Homo sapiens: one gene and its partner. The protein of the gene in region 2 interacts with the protein of the main gene of each other region in a pairwise test. Each region holds a gene or a part of one and is shown on either strand. Other genes may lie near its edges.

Region 1 (7,700 bases), on a different chromosome or scaffold from region 2:
TGCTTTAAAGAAATTGTGGTACAAAGTGGAGACCTCTCCCATGATTATAGTCAATAATGTTAAGAAATCACTTTATTTTCAAATCTTACATTAGAAAAGAAGTAAGAAACAAGTTTAATGCCTTACTAAAATCATTTACTATTGGTCTCCTTTTAAGACATGGAGTATATGTTATTTTTTAAAATCCAAAAACAATAACGCTTTTACTTATTTTCAAAAAGAAACAGAGCAACTTTAGTTTTCCATTATTTGGAGAAAATTATAGCACAAAATACGTTGAAACTATTTATAACATCCAAATATAAAATATGATCACGGACAATTTAAAATACATTTTCTATCTGTGTATCTGTATTTTTCACATTTTGGTTAGAAATTTAGTTAGAATCATCCAATTGAATGAACTAGATTAGATAATTTAAACATTGCCTGAAATACATATAGTCCATCTATTATTTTCTATCTTATTGATCTGGCCTCTCACTTGACTCTTTTACTCAAACAGATGCTATAACTCTATTAGCTTTCTTCTTCCTCCTCCTCTTTTCTCCCCTCCCTCCCACTAATCTCCACTCTTACAAGATGAGCTGGGTTTTAGTGGTGCAGCTGCTGGCTAATACCCACAGATATAGGTCCTAATGTTGCCTTTGATTTGAGGAAATTTTAAGGCATCCAATTTCTTTAAACCTCAAGTCTATGAAATTAGACCAATATCAGAATCTCCTCTCAATACAATAAAGAGAGTTGAGACTTGAATTTTCTTATAGTCTTAAATTTTCATTGTTATTTGATTCTGTGTTGTAAACACATTCTTCAATGACTATCGGCCTACCCTACTTCCTGATCCTCAATTACATAATTCTTGGTTTCCTTTACAGTGTTTTGTTTTGCTAACTTTAAGAAAAACATCTTTTTGTTGCACCCTTATCACTGTAGAAGTTGCTCATATCATTAAATGCTATGGCATGTTGCAGAATGTATAGATCTCCTCTGGATGACTTTCCAACTTATCCATCTTCATGCTTTTATGAAAAACATGTTCTTTCTCTAATAATGACTATCCTTACTTATGTCACAAAGATGCTATGAGGACAAATTTTATCATGTATTTTAAACACTGTGAATTCCTTAGAAACAACAACAAAGCACTATAGAGATAAGAGTTATTCTTCCTCTATTTATATAGATCCTGACAGGGAGTTAAGAGACCAGGTAAGTCAGATCCTTGGTAATCACAGCTCTTTTGAGCCTCCCTTTCCTCACTTCTAAAAGGTGGACATATCATCTGCTACATCTGGCTTAATAGTAGAACCCAGGACCCAAATGAGAAATGAATGTGAAACAGTAGAGCCTACGCTCTGTAAATAACCATCCCCAAAATTCACAGGGATATAGTTTTTAGAAAAGACTATCTCCAATGAAGTTATACTAGTGTGGATTTTAAAGAATTCAGGTAGCCACACCCGATTTTCTAATGAAATATAAAATGTCCCCTGAATTCTGATGTTATTGGCCAGTGAAAACAAATACTACTATATGATCATTTCGGCCAAGCCTTTGGAATGAAGGCCAAGAGGGTTTACCTGAATAATCTGGGCAGCAAGCTCCGGAGTTCCATACTTCAGGTCGTGCCCATTGATGGCCAGCACTCGGTCATTGCTGCTTAGCCTGCCGTCCTGGGCAGCCAACCCCCCTTCCAACAGGTCAAGAATAAAAACCCCTGGCTCATCTGTCCTTCGCACCAATTTAATGCCAAGCTGTTCACCAGAGTCCCGTTTATGAAGAGCCACTTGGAAAATCTCTTCTCGTGGAGAGTTACTATCAGAATGGTTGTGTGCTCGGTTGCCAAAGCGCCTCTCTCGAAGCACAGTAAGATGCAGTGTGTTGCAGGGCTGGGAAAGGACAGCTCGGGCATAGTTATGGGACACATTGCTGATATTGTAGTTGTTGACCTAGAAAAAAAGAATTGTGACCGAAGTGTGACAACCTTTTATTTTTCCAATTTGTAGGAATGTTTATGTGACATTTCCACAGGAAACTAAGTATTGTGAGAGTGCTAAGTATGGTGAGAATGCTATACAATCATTATTTACAAAGAAAACCACATTAAAGACATTTAAAAACAGAGTTTCTAATATTAACTTACAGTGACTAGCATCAAGGAGAGAATAGTAGCTAGGATCACGGGCTTTAATGACGGTCTTGAATTAGAGTCCTAGGTACTACCATTTACTAACTGATAACTTAGGCAAATTATAGAACTTGTCTGAATGAGTCTCCTCATCTGTAAAATGTGTTTACTTCATGGGATCAGTATGAGAATGAACAGATTAACATGGGGCAAGTGCTAATGAAATAAATACTAATTCTAGTGGAACAGAAATTTAAGTTTTACTAGATTACAAATTTGCTTCTTCCAAATTAAATACACTTAAGCTAGAGAAAATAAATTGTTATTTTAAGGAAAGTAGCACATTTCAGGTATACAAACTTATTTTAGATAAGTGACTTTTACCTGAAAGAAAACCAGGTTAATTGTAATTTCACTCTAATTCTTCAGCACAGAAATATTAGGTTGGTGCAAAAGTAATTACGGTTTTTACCATTAAAAGTAAAATATAATGTATATCTAATGCATTATTCAATACTCATATAACATTTATGTATTCACCTTTATAATCTCAAAAAAAGTATAGTGACTGATCCTTGGGTATGTAACAGCACTTAGAAAATACACCTAACTTCAATTATTTCTTTAGTTACAAGAGATGAGCATGATTCTTAGCATTTATCACAATTAGAGTTCTTCTCTGAATCGGTCTGAGATGAAACCAACATCCTCTGACCATCTGTTATATGACAGGCTCTGAGTTAGGTGTTTATGATCACCTAAAATTCTTACATCTTTTTCACACAAATCCACATTAGGCAAGACTTTCCTCTTCCTATTGACTTAGGATTGATAGTTGTAAATACTATTTTGAATTTTGTTGATTTTGACCTATTAACACCTTTCAGAATTCAGTCACCAAATGCACAGATGTCACACACAAACTTGCTTTCTCCCAAGTCTGCAACATCTATTAATTTGGTAGTCATCCAAGTCCTTGGTAAAAGTATTGAATAATACAGGGTCAAGAATGGAACTTCTGAAGTTCTATTATATTTAGAAAGCAGCTTCTAAAAATCCACGCAGATATAGATTCATTAGTCAAACCACCATTTCCAACTATTTAGCTACAAAGCTACCTACCTGTAGGTTCACATTTTTCTGTCTTATATTCAGACATATCACACATATCACAAATGACTTTACAAAACGTCTGGCTAAAATCCAGCCATGTGTAAACATGCAGCCTCATAACATCTTTGTGAAGCAGGCTGGGGAATATTCTACAACTGGAAAAAGATTTTTCCTCCAGGAATGCATGGTTGCCAGTGAAATTCAGAGAAAGCAGAAACCAAATAAAATATTGTTTCTAGATTTTGTAAAAATAACATCAGCATAGCAAACTATCTCATTTTTGAGCTAAATGTATTTTTTTATCAATCAACAGCTGTAATTATTTTCCTTCAGAACTGAAAATGCCATTATTGATGACTTCATTAAACTGAAAATACTTATTCTTAATAATGTTCTAAGTTATATTACTTTTATTAATGATATTGAGGTAATTTATAATAGCAGTATTTTTTTTTCTTCAAAACTGCTCAAAGAGGCTGCATATGAAACTCTAAGAGTAGCAAAAAGCTCTAACAGCATATGGTTCTCCTTTTCAAAGAGGCTATTTAATAACATTTGTATATGTAAATAAATATATATAAATGTGGGAAAACCACCAAAGCCACACACTGCTTATGTATATGGTCTGCAAAAATGAAAATGCAAGCTAGCTCTCTGGTCTGCAAATCAACCATCTTACTGCCTCTTCGAGATTTTCAAATTGGCTCACTGTGTTATATTTATTTAGCTTATACAAAGTTGGAGGTAACCAGATAGTAAAAAATACCAATAGGCCTCTTTCCAAGTGTTTACTCTTGAATAACCATAAATAGTCCATATGTGGGAAAGGGGGGTGGCTTTACTTGGCTCCAACACACCAGTTAAAAGCCAACCAGAAGTCAGGGCCTATAATAGGAGAGACCCTTTGTGAATTCATTAATCAGATTATGTGCTCAGACTTTTCTTATCAATTTGAATCATTAAACTAGATGTAAGATTGCCATTATTGGAGTTATTAGTATACAGGTTTCCATAAACAGTAATAATGCAGTGGAATTTCTACAATGTAGACTTTATAACTGAATTAATTCCCAAAAATATGGTTGATAATTTCAGATAATTACAATCTTTTGAGGTCTAAAGATTCAGTAGTGTTAATGAACCATTCTCTAAAATAGAAACAAGCCCACTGATGAAATGTATTAGTAAAAAAACTTAAACAAATCTGTTATATTCAAAGAAATATAAATAAAAACATTTGTAACAATACTGGGCTAGTAGCAAAAAATAAGTGTACACTTACATTTCAGCTAAAAAGCCCAGAAGTGGGAGAGTCAAAGAACACTCAGTGGGCTGCAGAAAAGGACTATCTGCCCTTCCTGGTCCTGACCACCAAAGTGTCAAGATGTCTGGGAGGATGAACCTGGGAAATGAGCTGTAAGAGTCGCTCTCTGCAAAATCAAGTCAGGAGCTAGGATGTAAATAATACAAGGGGTCCTACAAGTTGTGCCAGCCTGTGCAGCTAAAGTACTAATATCATAAAATGCAGCTAGGATAACTAAATAGCTAGCTATGACAGGATCAGAAATCTGATTTTATATGAGCTGGATTAGTTATGTTCCTGTATTCGTCTATTACATCTAAGTATTTGGTAAAAAAAACACTGTTTGAAAGCTCAGTCTGTCTCAGCCATGCCTAGGGGTAATGAAGGAAAGGTTTTAGGCTTGGTGTTAATTATTTTCAGGAATAATACACCATGAAAAGCAGCATACAAGCGGGAGTGGAAATCAAACCCAAGAATCCCTAGTAGGGTCAATCCTGGCTGCCTTTGTAGACTCCCATAGCCCCAAGTCTAGAGATTTCTTTTCAACAACTAAAAATCCTAACCAAGTTTTTCTTTTAATAAAGGAGATGGCTATTCCCAACAGCATCTTATATTCAAATTCACTCTTTTATTGACTCAGCAAATATTTTCTGAGCACTTACTACAAGCTATGAGAAATCTGTATCATAATCTGTACCATTAGGGTGGTTGCAATTACCTTAGATCATGCCTACATACGTAAAATGTTCAAACAATTCTCTGTAACTCATCACGTGCCAAGTGATGAAGAGAAAAGTGATGAATGCCAATAATAACTAATGTAGGAGGAATCAGTATGGGGGAGAATGGCTGAACAAAAGCTTTAAGGATGAAGGTGAACAAACTGGCTCATGAGATGAGGACAGGCTGCAATGTGGGAATAAGGTGTTTGCAGGGAAGGAAGAAGACTGCTATGTCTGGCTCTTCCACTAGATTGTATATTCCACGAGGACAGGTCAGTATTTTGCTCTGAAATGTACCACCAGCAACTAGTATAGTGCCTAGAATGTTGTGAGAAATGAATGAGCTGGTGTGCCTGAAATGAAGAATTGAGATTAACAAGACAGGTTGTAGAAGAGACCGTGGAGGACCCTGACTATTAGATTAATCAGTCTGGACTTGACCTCCTAGTTGAACCTTTGCAAGGCAAGCAGGGTTACTGATGTATTAACCTGGCAGTGATTGTTTCAGATTTAAGGGAGGAGAGTTGGGAGGCAGAAGTATATGATGGGGTATTCTACTAAATTAGATATGAAGAAGAGAAGTCCTAGACTCAAGAAGTGGCAGGAAAATGGAAGTAGGGGGTAGATATCAACAGGTCATGGTGAAGGACCGAACCACAAATCCAAGGAGAGAGAGGAGTCCCTGCGCTTGGGTTGACAGGAGACATTTTTTCTTGTTCATGAATATTTCCTCTCTCTCCTAGAAGTTATCCGTTTTTAAGCTTCAATTATTATCACCTTTGTATGATGAAAATGGTCCAGGCCGGTATTAACATCAACTCCGGGATTGTAGAACTCTTACCATCCTCCTCCCCTCATCTCAACTTGCCCTCTAATAAAATATCTTGTCCCATGCTAGTTATTTCTGGAGAATACCTGTTTCTTCTTAAAGATCATCTTCTGAAAGGGAAAACAGTAAGGGGAGCGAAGGGGATTATTGAAAATGCAGAGTTAGAGTGTTTGCTGAGGAGAGTGCATTAGGGAGTTGATAGGAGATGACTGCAAGATTTCTGAACTCTATCTTATAATCTGTGGTATAAATTATGAGTGCTGCATGGTTCCTTCTTTTCTAGATTTTAGTAGTCTGTATAGAAAAGGATAAATCCAACAATGAAGGTAATGAATGGGAAAACTGGGTATAAAATAATACCAATGAGATGATAATTTCAACATGGATGAAGGTGACCCTTGAACAGTCATTCAAGAAGTCCAAGCAGGAAGAGGCTAGTCAGCCCAAGGAAGAGTCTAGCTAGCTCAGCAAGCCTGAGATCATGTGCCAAGCCACATCGCATGCAGGAATGAAAATTAAGATAGGAAGAAAAAATACTCTGTGTATATGGGAAAATACCACAAATTACACATAAATTCTGATGTTTTGCATATAGAAACAGTAAAACTAATCTATATATAATTTAGGTTCCAAAACAGCACAATTTTCTAAGGTTTAAGTGTTAAGAATGGAACAAAAAGGCACAAGTTAACAGAATAATTAAAACTGATACCTGAAGAATCTGGTCTCCAGCAAGAAGTCTCCCGTCTCTGGCAATGACCCCATCCCGATAGACCTCCTGGATGACAATGTTAATCAAAGGTGTTTCGTTGCCACCCACAATGCTGATTCCTAACTGAATGTAAGGATTGGACCGATGAATTTCAATCGTGGTGATTTCTCCTTCTGGTAAACTAAGTGGCTGTTGTGTGGCTGCCAAGTTAAAAATGAGACAGACAAAAACAGATGTTAAAAAAATAAACAAACCCAACAATTTATATTCTGATTATCTTCAGGTAAGTATGTCACATTAATACATGATTAACAGCTAAGCAGTATCACTGGATAAGAAACAAAATGACAAAATATCTGTTGTTAAGATTATCTAAAAATTTTCTCTACTAAAACTGATCAGTAAATAATAAATAGCTACTATGTATCAGATCACTAGGGACGACACAGTGATCTGATTAAGAAATATGAAAAGAAAGTCATTCTGTCCTCATTGATGAGAGAAAATTTGGACCACGAAACAACTGTACATAATGAGAGGCAGTACAAAGGAAACACTAGCTCTGTGGCATAGAAACAGCACAGGTGTTGAGAGAGTAGCCACATCAAGCTCGTAAGAAGAGGTGGGTCTTGAACGGAGACGTAGGAAATGAAGAAGGCGCATAGTTGCGGCAAGGAAAATTCAAATTTGTAGTAGAGCTTGGAAAAAGAAAATCATTTTTAAAAGGAAATATCAAGGGCCCACTACCATGATATGCCCAAGATCCATGACTACGGGCCTTCTGTTAACTTCCTAGTGGGTAACAGAGCAGTGGCTGGTACCAGAGGTGTATAACGGTGAGATGCATGGTCTTGGAGTCAAATACAAACCCAGTCATTTACTGGTTGTAT
Region 2 (8,400 bases):
TGGCATATCCTTATATTCACTCCATTAAAAAAAAAATCTATAATGCTCAGTAAATGTTAATTCATCTGTGCCCACGATGCCAGGACATGAGTTTAGCCAGAATGTTACGCCTTGGGCCCCAAAATGTGATCCATATATTGAAAATATCAGTTTTCTTAGTAACTGGGTAAAACTTAAAGAAGAGTCATGAATTAGAAGGTATAACCCGAAGAATGTTTAAAAGGTGCAGTTTGAGCTTATTTATGCTCATAGGATGTATTCATGGACATTTCCTTAAGACAGAGAAAACAGTTTTTTTCCAAAGGCTTTCTTTCTGTTTGTGATTCTAGGATGTAGCCTCTATTGAATTGAATATGTCATCTACTTTTGATCTTTAGTGCAAAAGCATTCACTGCAGGCATAACTTATTTGACCACATCTGCTTGTTTTGATATTATTGGTAACATTTTGCCTACTTTACAAAAAAAAAAAGGAGGGGGCAAAACCCAGGAGCCAGATAGTTACAATCCAGATGGTTTGAGGGGAAAATACTAAGAGAAAATACTTGATTCAAAACCACCCATAAATATTGAGCCATCACTGAAGTTCTTGTTGGAAACATGTCTCTGAGCTCTGCTATCCTCTGTCTTGGAAAGAGCCTATTAGAGTGCTGATCTTTGCTACTAGTACTCTGTTGTACTGTTCTCCTGGAGAGCATAAACTTGTCACCCAAAAGCTAGATTGTGGCTGGAGTTATTTTGATGGGATATGTCCCTTTATTGTAAAAGGCTGTAAGTCCATCTAAAAAGGAACTCTCAGACATGTTTACCCTAAAACCCCAGCTTAGGGCTGGGCACAGAGGCGGTGCAAGACAAATATTTATTGGCTTGAAATGAAAAGGTTGCTTTATAGCCATGAAACTGCAAAATGCAGGAAGGGACTATCAGAAAGCTGATGTTGACAGTAAGGAGAAGGATTTTTCATGCTTACCAGGCATCCTCTGCACTCCAGGCTAGAATGTGGAGTATGTCGAAAAGGTCAATCATCGCCCTTGCTAGATCTTTTCTTAAATTCTGGCCCATATGCTGAGAAGGATCAGTGGTGCTCTCAGGCTGCCTGCCACCTGTTTACATTCTGTTACTGCTTCTTTGCCTTTGATTTTGGCCACTGTCTCTCCGGAAGTGTAGGCATGGATAGGTTGCAAAAAGACACGGAATTGATTCAAAACTCTTCTTACTATCTAATAAAGCAGGAACTAGTCTCTAACTTTACACCTGAAAAATAAGTTAAAAGCCACTTTTGCCTGTAATCCCAGCACTTTGGGAGGCCGAGGCAGGCAGATCATGAGGTCAGGAGATTGAGACCATCCTGGCTAACACGGTGAAACCCCGTCTCTAATAAAAATACAAAAATTAGACAGGCATGGTCTAATGTAGCTATCGGGAGGCCGAGGCAGGAGAATCGCTTGAACCCAGGAGGCGGAGCTTGCAGTGAGCCCAGATCGTGCCATAGCACTCCAGCCTGGGCGACAGAGCAAGACTCCATCTCAAAAAAAAAAAAAAAGGCCACTTTTACATAAGCAGTAATTAAACTAAGAAGACTTCGTTTGTGGCAATATTCTTCAAGTCTTTCAGAGCGTAATTTCTTCTTTAACGAAAGCATAGATGCAGATTTTAGTTTCCTAACAGCACACCTCCACCCCAGTCGAATACAGAGATGGGTACATTCACCAAGATGAAGTTTATCAAATGGTCATCTAAGAAGCCTTTTGAGGCCTGCAACAGTGTAGTAAACCACGGCTTGCTGAGAATGCTGGATCTCAGTCCTCAGATAGCTATTTTACAGCAAATTATTTTCATGGTGATTCCTTTGCCCCAGTGGGGGCTCCTTTCTCAGTTTAGCAGTATGTCAGAAATACTTTAAAGATTAGCAGATGTTTGGGTTAATAAAAACCATCTTTATCTTCTTTGAGGCTATTACACATTCTTACTATGATTTCTTTACACGGGCTTTGAAAAAAAGAAAAAACTGCAGTATTTGGCAGAGTTTCATCATTTTAAATATTTCTTTATCATTATAGAATGCACAAAACATTGAATTTAAATACTTCTTAGTGAAAATAAGATTAATGGCTCTTGTCAGCCAGACATTGTAGACTCTCAGTATAGCACCTCCTTAGATTTGTAGCCTCACTGCCTCCTCCTTAGTCGATTCTTACCTTGCTCATGTTCCTCTACCTGGAATGTCAGACACAGATATATTATTAAACAGAAACAGTGCTGAGGACATCGCACCTGGCCAAAGTTACAATTCATTTGTTAATGGGACGAATAATGTGGCAATTAGCCTTGTTTGAGAGGTTATGACAAGTCATCGAAGGAAGGTTAAAACTTCACATTTGCCAGGGACACTTGTTATAACTGAGGCCAATCTGTCTACAGCAGTTTAGGTGCTCTTCAGAGTTTTGGGCAGTGTGACCAGTATCTGAATTTTACAGGAGTTTTTAAGTGTGACATAACCTTTTAGTAAATGTAGAATATAGTATTGTATACAACTAGGATGGGCTTAAACAGGATGAAACTAAGGTTGGAAGGTAAACTAATCACACATAATATGCAGTTTTATGTACATTTTTGGAGCTCTCTGATGTTCGAGGCACTTAAGAAGTCATACATAATATACATGTTATGTCAAATACTGTACCAGAGGAATAGAGGATTTGCATGTGATACAGACCAAAGGGTATCCAAGCAAGGCGACAGAAAGAATGGCCCTCAGGACAGAGGGAGCAGCAAGACCAGAGACACCAGAGCATGAACATGCTTCCTAGATTTCCCAGGGAGAGGAATCGTTCCCTATCCTGGGGCATAGCAGCTGCAGGGAATGACAGGAGACGTGGCTGGAAAGCTGGGGCCAGATGGCGGAGACTCCTCAGCTCCACGTTAACAACGTGCTCCCTTGGCAAGCCGTACAGATCCTTTGAAGGATTTTGAGCAGAGAAATGACAAGTTTATACTAGAAACAAGCAGCATGGAAGGTAGGCTGCCTGCATGGAGTCTGGAGGAGGAGAGCAGCGCAGAGAATAGTGTAAATTCTTCCTGCAAGTAGTATTGAGGAGGTACAAATGGGAGGATAGAACTGGATTTAAATAGTTTTCAGAGAGAAGAAAGTCAAGTGAAATAGGACAAAGAGTCCAAAGTCAGTCCGTGGTCTCCATTCGGAGAAAAAGGGCTTGGGAAAGAATATATGGAGTTTGGTTTTGAATGAGCCAAAATTGAGGTACCGAAGAACATCCAGGTGGTGAAGCCTATAGGAGATTGGACATTTTTCATGTGATTCTTAGGACAGAAGCTGGCACTGAGACTAGAGATTGGGGTATCATTTGAATAAAGGTGAGAATTTTGTCTTTATGTATAGAGTTCCTTAAGATTCTATCAGAATCCATGTCAAGATACAATTTTTCTGATTAAAATAATTTCTTTTAAAACACTATAATGCAGAAACTTATGTGTAATTATTTTATGTTTTGTAACCTTAATGTTACCGAACTTGTGTTAAATAAGTTTATCTTGTTTGGGTCACAACTTTTATTCCAGAGAAACGCAGTTCTTATTTTGATTTTGCCTTAATACTGATGATTTTTTTTTGAAGTTCTTTAATGTTAAGCATTTTCAGTGTGACTTTTAAAATTGCTTTCCTTAAAAGTGACTGTGAAATTGCTAAGTAGGCTGAGATTGATGTCAGGTTATCCCCAAGCATAACCTCACTCTCACCTTGCTTTGCAGGCATATCTTTTTCTTGCACATCAAGGAGGCCCTCTTGGCAGGCCACCTCTTGTGTTCCCCAGAGCAGGCAGTGGAACTCAGTGCCCTCCTGGCCCAGACCAAGTTTGGAGACTACAACCAGAACACTGCCAAGTATAACTATGAGGAGCTCTGTGCCAAGGAGCTCTCCTCTGCCACCTTGAACAGGTGAGGCTGTTGAATATAGTATTGTTTACAACTAGAATAGGCTTAAACAGGATGAAACTAAGGTTGGAAGGTAAACTAATCACACATAATATGCAGTTTTATGTACATTTTTGAGCTCTCTGATGTTCGAGGCACTTAAGAAGTCATACATAATATACATGTTATGTCAAATACTGTACCAGAGGAATAGAGGATTTGCATGTGATACAGACCAAAGGGTATCCAAGCAAGGGGACAGAAAGAATGGCCATCAGGACAGAGGGAGCAGCAAGACCAGAGACACCAGAGCATGAACATGGCAGCATCAGGGCTACTGCATATATTCATAGAGCTATCAAATGTATAAGCATTTCCAAAAGAAGATGAATCTGTGGTACATACACATAATTTGTGAAGTTAAGACTGGGCCATTGCCCAATTTAACCAAATATTTTCAAAAAATTTGTTAGCCTTTTATTTGAAAAATATGTAAACACAATATGAAATGCTATATAAAATGGGAATTTTTTAAATCTGTGCCTTTAAGTACAAATCTCCTAAAATAAAAAATCTATTATGTATATTGGTGTTTTCTTCATCCCAGCAAGAATTAAACCAGGAGATCTAACATAGGCATTTTAGTTATCTATTCCTGCATAACAAGTTACCCCAAAACTTAGTGACATAAAACAACAAAAATTGTCTCACAGTTCTGTAGGTCAGGAATCTGGCCATGTCTTGGCTGGGTCCTCTGGCTCATGAGACTGTAGTCAAGCTGCAGGTAGAACTCTGTCTCATCTGAAGGCTCGACTGAGGGTGGCCTCCATGCCAGGTTGACTCCTGTGGTTTGTTGGCCTACCTCCTTCCCTGGCCACAGGGGCCTCAGGGGTCAACTTTATACTTATAAACTATATGTGGACAAATGCATGAGACTTTCCAATATGTAAATTTGACTTATGTATATTTTTAGAGACTTTCCATAATTCTTCCAATTCATCACCCATCCAGCATCCCCAAAGTGTTTTTACCAAGTATTTAATAGTTGAGATCCCAGTGTCTTAGACGTTTTTTATAGTAAGTTCGCTAAATACATGAAACATCAGTAATACATAAGTTTTAAGTTGTTGTGATTCATCAGTGTTAGTATATTTCACTCGTGAAGACTACATAGGTTTATCTCTAAAGCTAATATCTGTATACTTAATTCTCTGTCCTCTTGGTGTCCTCCAGCATTGTTGCAAAACATAAGGAGTTGGAGGGGACCAGCCAGGCTTCAGCTGAATACCAAGTTTTGCAGATTGTGTCGGCAATGGAAAACTATGGCATAGAATGGCATTCTGTGCGGGATAGCGAAGGGCAGAAACTGCTCATTGGGGTTGGACCTGAAGGAATCTCAATTTGTAAAGATGACTTTAGCCCAATTAATAGGTAAGCCAAGACTTAACTTTTTTTGACCTAAGCATGTGTATACATCTGTAGCTGTCAATGTAATAGAAAATAGGAAGGGATTTACTCGACAGTCAGCTCTTAGGAATGAAAGATTTCATTTTGGTATGTACATTAATTTTATTCAGGCCTAAATAACCATTTTAAATGTTATTCAAGGTATACAATGTGGCAGAGTTAACGTTTTCCAAATAACCCATTCACTGCCATAAAAAACTTGTTTTCAGCTCTAGACATGCATGTGCGCACACCCAGCACTTGCTCCCATACTTCCCTCCACATATGCCCAACTGCTTTTCACTGTATCTTTACAATAAGGCAGCATTATGGTGATGTGATAACCCCAGAGGAAGCGTCTGATTTTTCTGCTAGGTCATGAGCAAATGGGGATCCCACAAAGGCACACACATGGTGAAGAATCACTCCTTCTAGATCTGCTTTCTTTTCTCTTCCTGTCTCTTAGGATAGCTTATCCTGTGGTGCAGATGGCCACCCAGTCAGGAAAGAATGTATATTTGACGGTCACCAAGGAATCTGGGAACAGCATCGTGCTCTTGTTTAAAATGATCAGCACCAGGGCGGCCAGCGGGCTCTACCGAGCGATAACAGAGACGCACGCATTCTACAGGCACGTATCTCGTGTGCTTGGTCACCTCAGCACCACAGCTCTCAGGTTTTTAGGTGACAACCAGGTTTCTACGGTTCCTTGGATTGTTGTGTCAATGAGTCTAGTACAGAATTTAAGAAATTCTGAACATTTTGTTTCCGTAGTAGCAGTGGAGTCCTTATTAATGTAGTCTTGTTTTACCCACAGAAGGTGCATGTGTGTGAGCTGCACAAACACATTCTCTGCTTACCTCCTACCGTATTCTCTTATGCCATTAATCTAGACACAAAGTGTGTTAGGAGATTTCTATGCCTATTTAATCAATACAACAACCCTAAGGGGTTATTATTACCCTAATGTTAAAGATGAGGGAACTGGGAGGATAATTATTTACTTAGTCTAGGACTCAGCTTCAAAGCCAAGTTTGATTACCCTAAAGGTAACCCTGAGGGACTGGGCCTGCTCCACTGCTCAGGAGAAGGATAGCACAGATCATCTTTTCTTTCTGGCAGAGCTGCTATCCTGAGTCGTCACTGTGTATGGAAGGATTTTTTAATAGCAATATTGATTCCCTCATTTCAGAGGGTACTTTAAAGCCAAGTTGTGATTGGACTCACGTATTTGGACAATTAAAGCTAAGAAATTTAAGTCGTAGACAACTTTAAACTTTTTTATTTTAAAATAGATACACAAATTGTGAAACAGGATGGGAAATTTTTAGACATTTCTAACCTAAAAGCCAAGACTTCAGGCAGATGCCCTTTTTCTTCCATAAGCAACTTCACTCAGTAGCGTCTGTCCTGGGGAGGAGGTACGTGCTCACTGCCCTCTGTATTTACTGCTTTACGGAAGCCATAATGTCAGGAGATGTTAGAGAAACAGAGGTGTAATCACTGAGAATATTTACCAGACGTAAAACTGGAAGGACTTACTTTCATACATGCAGACGAGACTATGAAACATCTGCTGACATTTCTGTTCTTATTGACAACAGCGAATAAGGGTGCTGCCAGGCTCTTTGGTGTTAAAGTAGATGTTCAATCTTGCCTTGCAGGTGTGACACAGTGACCAGCGCCGTGATGATGCAGTATAGCCGTGACTTGAAGGGCCACTTGGCATCTCTGTTTCTGAATGAAAACATTAACCTTGGCAAGAAATATGTCTTTGATATTAAAAGAACATCAAAGGAGGTGTATGACCATGCCAGGAGGGCTCTGTACAATGCTGGCGTTGTGGACCTCGTTTCAAGAAACAACCAGAGCCCTTCACACTCGCCTCTGAAGTCCTCAGAAAGCAGCATGAACTGCAGCAGCTGCGAGGGCCTCAGCTGCCAGCAGACCCGGGTGCTGCAGGAGAAGCTACGCAAGCTGAAGGAAGCCATGCTGTGCATGGTGTGCTGCGAGGAGGAGATCAACTCCACCTTCTGTCCCTGTGGCCACACTGTGTGCTGTGAGAGCTGCGCCGCCCAGCTACAGGTAGGGGAGTCAGCTGCCCACTTTTGCCTGCAGCCTCACCTATCCCTCCTCTTAACGGGGAGTAGGAGCCAGGTACTGGCTCGCTAATGCACAGACGGGGAATGCCCATCTTCACCCGGAAAGGGTCTTTGTATTTGGTGACCTAAAAGGCATTGCCCTTTAGAAACATTTTAGATTAGCATACTATTTTCAACAACATAATTACTCCAAATTATGCAGTGTTTTCAAGTTCTGAAAATGAGGCTGAGATTCCTGGGTAACATATCTAGTTAGCGGCTTACCTGAGGACAAGAATCCAGGCCTCCTGAGGCCTGGCCCAGGGCTGCTTCCTCTATTTCAAGTTGCCTCCCTTTTTCTGACACTTAGGAGGATGGTCTTTATTACTTAAGATATTTGGGAAAGAATACTTCTCAATTATCCATGGATGGGTTGTTGACTCTGTGATATTGGTGATTAATTTCCTTTTATGATTGCAAATGCCTCAAGGGCATATGGGTTGGCTGTTATTTATTAGCAAGTCAAACTAATTTTAATATTAACACGAAAAAGAGAACTCACATATAGTTTTCTTCCTTTCTTGCATGAAGAAGAATTTTAAATTTCCTCTTACAAGTTTTTTCAATTTGTTTTTATTTCTCAGATGTGTTTGCCAAATGTCACTGTGGTTTTATGTAAAACTGGTTCTAGATAATACTTAGTCCTTCAGAAGCTGCTAATTTCAGAGCTAATAAGACCAAATGACCCCTGTGTCCTTTCCCCAGAAGCAGTCATAGGCTTGTCTTTTTCTGCCCACCTATTCTGACTCTCATCCCTAAGTCTCTCCTGAGGGCTGATGATGGGCACGGGCTTTCTGAGAAGTCAGCCAGGAATGTGGAGCTGCCACCTACGGCTAGAAGCAGAGCCACCCTCCCTGGCCATGTGGGCATCAGCCCAGAAATGTTGG

What was found. Proteins that work in one complex are often made in the same cells at the same time.
Region 1: the proteins of MYLIP (region 2) and LNX2 interact in binary tests that used the Homo sapiens proteins (3 or more experiments, as listed by UniProt).

Annotation. Positions count from the first base shown.
Region 1 is NC_000013.11:27,560,830-27,568,529, forward strand, and holds part of LNX2 (ligand of Numb protein X 2), read right to left. Parts: intron 7,011-7,700; coding exon 6,811-7,010; intron 1,953-6,810; coding exon 1,584-1,952; intron 1-1,583.
Region 2 is NC_000006.12:16,137,861-16,146,260, forward strand, and holds part of MYLIP (E3 ubiquitin-protein ligase MYLIP), read left to right. Parts: intron 1-3,695; exon of another isoform or gene 3,696-3,764; coding exon 3,765-3,950; intron 3,951-5,159; coding exon 5,160-5,357; intron 5,358-5,838; coding exon 5,839-6,003; intron 6,004-7,036; coding exon 7,037-7,457; intron 7,458-8,400. UniProt on the Homo sapiens protein: E3 ubiquitin-protein ligase that mediates ubiquitination and subsequent proteasomal degradation of myosin regulatory light chain (MRLC), LDLR, VLDLR and LRP8. Activity depends on E2 enzymes of the UBE2D family.